2 separate regions of the Homo sapiens genome follow, and region 1 is linked to region 2. The links come from fine-mapping of genetic effects on gene expression. A gene starts in region 2. The other region holds a variant in brackets. All regions are shown on one strand. Distances are from middle to middle. Region 1 holds the start of NHERF1 (NHERF family PDZ scaffold protein 1). Region 2 holds the start of NAT9 (N-acetyltransferase 9).

Region 1 (2,892 bases), 28 kb before region 2:
CAAAGTCATGTGGGTATGTCTGGGGTAGAGAGAGGGGTAGCAAGTTCATGTGTCCTCCTTGGTCACATATCTCCCAAAGCTCCGATCCCTGCCATGGGAAGTGGACAGGAAACATGAGGTCATGACCTGCAGGCATCTTTACTGCAGCTCTGCCGGCCTGGAGGGGGAGAGGGGGAGGAAGAAGTATGCGCTGCACATTTCTGAGGCTACTGCATTTGCTTTCAAGGCAGAAATCTTGCTCTGAGCAGTCAGCGGCTCCAGTTTGGGCCCGATAAGGAAGTTCTCCGTGGCCTCCCTCAGGCAGAGCAGGGAGGAGGCTGACATTGCCAGTCTCTTCTGGGGCCCAAGGCAGGTTGCAGGAGATCCAATCCCATAGACAGCTCTGGGCCTCTTGCATTTGAGTTTTTCAGAATTAAACTGCAGTATTTTGGAAAGCACATCCTGTCCACTGTTTCTTTGAAGTGAGTGGGGGGGGGGGGTCTTGTTGAAGGAATTGTCATTCACTGCCAAAATCATTCCATCCTCCTTCCTCAGTGTCTGTCCTCAGATGGTCAGCTCCCCGCTCAACAGACTGTCTCCCGCCTCTGTGACCAGCCTCTCTTTGGCAAGAGGGAGCTAGAAGGCTTTACAGTCCTAATCATTTTTCTGTTGGAAAAAAAAAAAAAAAACCAAGGCTCCTTTCCCTGTGGCGTGTACCCAGAGGTTGATTACCTGAGTCTGTCCTGCCTCTCCCCACCCCACCTCCCTAGCCAAACGCTGCTGCCAAAGCCCACGCTATTGCCCTAGATGGCCTGTCTTCAGCGGGCTGCCCCTCGAGGTCCCAGGCTCTCCGCGGAGCCCTCACCTTCCCAGCAGGGATCAGAACCTGCACTCCTCTATGCGAGTCCTGGGACAGCACAAAGTGGATTAGGGTTAGGGTTCCCACAAACGGAAAAATGTTATTCAAACAACTCTGTAGGGTCCGAGGAGGCCCTCCGTCTTAATTCTCGAGACTGACCGGCCCTCGCTGCCCCGAGCGGGAGCAGTTGCCCCGGCAACAGCCGCTCCCTCTCAACTGGAGCTGCACCCAGGCTTTGGCTAAAGGCTGTTAAAACGTTGGCCAGGTGCGGTGGCTCACGTCTGTAATCCCAGGGCGGATCACCTGAGGTCAGGAGTTTGAAACCATCCTGGCCAACATGGCGAAATTTCGTCTCTACTAAAAATACAAAAATTAGCGGGGCGTGGTGGTGCGCGCCTGTAACCCCAGCTGCTCGGGAGGCTGAGGCAGGGGAATCGCTTGAACCCGGGAGGCGGAGGTTGCAGTGATCCGAGATCGCGCCACGGCAGTCCAGCCTGGGCGACAGAGCGAGACTCCGTCTCAAAAAAAAAAAAAAAAGTTAGGGTCCTTTACCCGAGGGCCGGCTTTCCTCACTCCCCGCCACAGGTAGGGGAAACCAGGCCGGAGCCGGCGGGCCCACCCGCCCAGAACCGGGAATTCGGCGAGCCCCGCCCCTGCCACCCCAGCGCCGGCCGCTCGGTAACAAACACTTCCACTTCCTGAGCGCTAGTCTTCGCCCGCCGCGGGGCGCCGCGCCGAGCGCAGGCCCCGCCCCGCGCGTTCCCAATGGCCGGCGCCGTTCACCCGGCCGGAGCGCCCAGGCCTGCAGCCCCCTATTGGCCCGCGGAGGTCCCCACCCTCAGCGCGGCCCCGCCCCCGGGGTAAGGAGCCGGGGCGGACTCTGGGACGCTCAGACGCCGCGCGGGGCGGGGATTGGTCTGTG[G/C]TCCTCTCTCGGCTCCTCGCGGCTCGCGGCGGCCGACGGTTCCTGGGACACCTGCTTGCTTGGCCCGTCCGGCGGCTCAGGGCTTCTCTGCTGCGCTCCCGGTTCGCTGGACGGGAAGAAGGGCTGGGCCGTCCCGTCCCGTCCCCATCGGAACCCCAAGTCGCGCCGCTGACCCGTCGCAGGGCGAGATGAGCGCGGACGCAGCGGCCGGGGCGCCCCTGCCCCGGCTCTGCTGCCTGGAGAAGGGTCCGAACGGCTACGGCTTCCACCTGCACGGGGAGAAGGGCAAGTTGGGCCAGTACATCCGGCTGGTGGAGCCCGGCTCGCCGGCCGAGAAGGCGGGGCTGCTGGCGGGGGACCGGCTGGTGGAGGTGAACGGCGAAAACGTGGAGAAGGAGACCCACCAGCAGGTGGTGAGCCGCATCCGCGCCGCACTCAACGCCGTGCGCCTGCTGGTGGTCGACCCCGAGACGGACGAGCAGCTGCAGAAGCTCGGCGTCCAGGTCCGAGAGGAGCTGCTGCGCGCCCAGGAAGCGCCGGGGCAGGCCGAGCCGCCGGCCGCCGCCGAGGTGCAGGGGGCTGGCAACGAAAATGAGCCTCGCGAGGCCGACAAGAGCCACCCGGAGCAGGTAAGCGGGGCCCAAGCCGCGCAGGCTGGCATGGAGTGGGAGGAGGATCCGGAGAGACCCAGGTGCCCCGGCCGTCCAGCCCCGCGCCCGCCGTCGTTTTTCTGAAACTCGAGCTGCGAGGGGGAGACCGCTTCCGCCCGCCGACCAGGCGCCCTGACACATCCTAGGCAGGCCTGGGGCTGCGTCCCGCGACCTCCTCTCCTTCCCAGGCTGTGCTGGGAGCTTGAGCGCCTTTGCCGCCTGCACCTCTTGTTCCCTGGCCTTTGGGAGGGCGGCGCAGGGGAACCCAGCCCCCTTCCCTCGGGTCTGTGGGTGTCTGCTCCCGTTCCTCGGAATCCCCCAATCCTGCTCCTTCCCTGGTGCCCTCTCCTCGTTCACCCCAGTCCGCAGATGGGCCGGGGAGAAAGGGCTCTCCGCCCCAGAGGTGCCAGCTTCGCCCGCCACTCCTACTTCAAAAGCTAGAGGAATAGCATTACTCCTCCTGTGTGGAGCCCCGGCGCGAG
Region 2 (2,892 bases):
CTCCCGAGTAGCTGGGACTACAGGCGCCCGCCACCACATCCGGCTAATTTTTTTGTATTTTTAGTAGAGACGGGGTTTCACCATGTTAGCCAGGATGGTCTCGCTCTCCTGAGCTTGTGATCCGCCTGCCTCGGTCTCCCAAAGTGCTGGGATTACAGGCGTGAGCCACTGCGCCCAGCCTTTATTTTATTTTATTTTATTTTTGAGACAAAGTCTCACTCTGTTGCCCAGGCTGGAGTACAGTGGTGTGATCTCGGCTCACCACAACCTCCACCTCCCTGGTTCAAGTGATTCTCCTGCCTCAGCCTCCCAAGTAGCTGGAATTACAGGTGCCGGGCAACAAGCCCAGCTAATTTTTTGTGTTTTTAGTAGAGATGGCGTTTTATCATGTTGGCCAGGCTGGTCTTGAACTACTGACCTCATGATCCACCCGCCTCAGCCTCCCAAAGTGCTGGGATTACAGGCGTGAGCCACCGCACCCGGCCGTTTTTTTGTTTTTGTTTGTTTTTGTTTTTTTGTTTTTTTTGTTTTTTTTTGAGACAGGTTCTTGCTCTGTCACCCAGGCTGGAGTACAGTGGTACAATCACAGCTCACAGCAGTCTTCATCTCCTGGGCTCAGGCAATCCTCCCACCTCAGCCTCCCTAGTAGCTGGGACTGCAGCTGTGCACCACCATGCCTGGCTAATTTTTGTATTTTTTTGTAGAGACAAGGTCTCGCTACGTTACCCAAGCTGGTCTCGAACTGCTGGGCTCAAGCAATCCTCCTGCCACAGCCTCCCAAAGTCCTGGAATTACAGGCGTGAGCCACGGCACCCAGCCTTTTTTCCCCCCTCATATATAATTATTTCTCACAACCAATGTTTCTTCTTAGGGGAAATAGCCCTGAGACTGGGGCTGTACCTTACACAGCTCTGGGTGCTGATACGCACCCCATGTCAAGCGGGAAAGATACCTGGGCACATGCTCCGAGGTGTAGGGTACAAGGACCACCTTCTTCCCCAGCAGCAAGGTGTTCTGATTCAACCTCATGGTAGCAGCCTGCATGCAGATGGGGAGAGCAAAGACTTCAGGACCCTGAATTTCCTCCAACTTTGGGTAGGCGCTCCAGCTTTCCTGCTGGGGCTAAGTTGACTTCCGTCATTAGTTCCGTCTAGACACTTCAAAGAATACAGACTCCAAAATTCTTGCAAGAAAGAGAACCAGGCTGGTTAAGGATAATTAAACAATCCTTGACTCCCACTCCAAGAGGCCAAGCCTGGGCTCCGTTTCTGCCGGTTCCTTCCGTCCACTCCCCAGAACTTCGATTCCTCAAACCCAAGCACCAAGTACCAAGTACCAAAGTATCCCCAGAGCTCCCATTACTTGCCCCAGTCCAGGGATTCCAACCCAGAATCAACTTTCAGCCCTGCCTTAAACCTACTTCCAACCTCTTACCCCGGCGACCACCCCACGGGGCTCTAGCCACTCCCTCCCCGCCCCCGACCACTTCAGGGCAAGGCGGGCTTAGTCTTAGGCCCTCCCCTTTGAGTGGCGTTCTAGACCACTCTCTTCGACCCTCCAACCACGCGGACCCGGGTACTGCCAAGCTCACACCCACCTACCACCGACGAAATCGTCCCCCGCAGAAAGGGTGATCTACCTCCTCCAACCAGCCACGTTCCCAGGCCCGGCCGGCTACCGCCCCTTCCGCATGCGCGTGAGAACGCGCCCCGCCCACTTCCGCCATGCTGACGGCAGCCGCCAGGCCCCAATCCCGGTCCCGCCCCCGCGAGGCGCCCAATCAGCGCGCGCGAAAAAGGTGGGCTGTGGGGCCGGCGCATGCGCGCTGCGGAAGCTGGTGCTGGACAGCTGGCGCCGGCAGCAGCGGACCGGCGGGAGACGGCGGCTTGGGAGCTGGCTGTGCTGCAGGTGTTGGGTCGGGTCGGGTCGGGACGGGCGGGAGAGGACGAGACGGGTCGGGATAGGTTGGGGCGGGGCGGGGCGGCACTAGACTCGGGACTCCTCCAGGAGGGAGAGAGAGGGAGAGGCTGGGAGTGGGGTTCTTGAGAAAAGAGGGAGCTTTGAGGGTGGGGAACCCTAAGAGAGTAGGTGGGGCCAGGGAGTGGAGGCCCCATTAAAAAAAGGAGGCCTTAGTGCCAAGAGTGGAGTTGGAAGGGCAATGTAGGAAAGCCCCCAGCTCCCTGCCCTAGGCAGAGGCGGCAGACAGTTCCTTGGGCTCCCATGTGTGGTAGTGAGCTCCTGGTTCCTGGAACTAAACGAGGATAACCACCCCAGAGCGTGGAAAGGGGGCTCTTGTGGTGGGTGAGACTTAGTGGTTTTAGAGGCCCCTTAAATCACTTGCACCCCGAGCAGCATTGAAAACATCCGTGCTGGGCACAGAGCAGTGCCCTGCACAGCAAGGGAAATGTTAGAAGAAACCGTCCAGATTTCTGTCATCCAGGGTGACCCCTCCCTCGGGGGTGAGTCTTGTGACAGATACTGAGGCCCTAAGTGTCTGTGATAAAAGAACCAGAGGTGGCAGGGGAAGTCTGCAAGCCTCCTCCCACCCCTGTCTCAGTCCATCAGATAGGTGAAGCCTGCTCTTTTGTTTTAAGGAGCTGCGGCAGCCGCCGTCCTTGCACCTAAGGAACCTCTGCTGCCAGCCCTTCCTCACTTTTGGAAATGGCGGGTGAAATTACAGAGACCGGGGAACTCTACTCTTCCTACGTGAGTGTGACTTATAGAACCTTTTGCTCACTTAAGTGTTCCTGGCTTCTAGAAAAGCACATTGCTTGCTGGAGATGGGACTAGTGAGTGCTGCTGCTTGAGCAGACCATAGTGGAAGCAGGATGGGGGAGTTCCATGGGGCAGCGACTACAGTGCTGCTGTGGTGGCTCAGAATGTAAGTCAGAT

The links.
Region 1: its variant is fine-mapped to the expression of NAT9 in whole blood (INTERVAL, PIP 0.95).

Annotation. Positions count from the first base shown.
Region 1 is chr17:74,746,899-74,749,790 of GRCh38, forward strand. It overlaps RAB37 (RAB37, member RAS oncogene family), which reads left to right. Exons shown (of 9, transcript NM_001006638.3): 9 at 1-437. It overlaps NHERF1 (NHERF family PDZ scaffold protein 1), which reads left to right and starts at 1,730. Exons shown (of 6, transcript NM_004252.5): 1 at 1,730-2,389. The coding sequence starts at 1,949. It overlaps SLC9A3R1-AS1 (SLC9A3R1 antisense RNA 1), which reads right to left. Exons shown (of 3, transcript NR_187307.1): 1 at 2,165-2,892; 2 at 1,675-2,029; 3 at 1-645. MIR3615 (microRNA 3615) reads left to right here and starts at 1,715; the gene lies at 1,715-1,801. RefSeq lists enhancers at 284-879, 2,168-2,793 and a silencer at 1,274-1,963. The variant G/C (reference allele first, on the strand shown) is at 1,761.
Region 2 is chr17:74,774,670-74,777,561 of GRCh38, forward strand. It overlaps NAT9 (N-acetyltransferase 9), which reads right to left and starts at 1,676. Exons shown (of 7, transcript NM_015654.5): 1 at 1,598-1,676; 2 at 953-1,038. The coding sequence starts at 1,029. SLC38A12 (solute carrier family 38 member 12) reads left to right here and starts at 1,830. Exons shown (of 10, transcript NM_017728.4): 1 at 1,830-1,908; 2 at 2,595-2,706. The coding sequence starts at 2,662. RefSeq lists an enhancer at 1,358-1,477.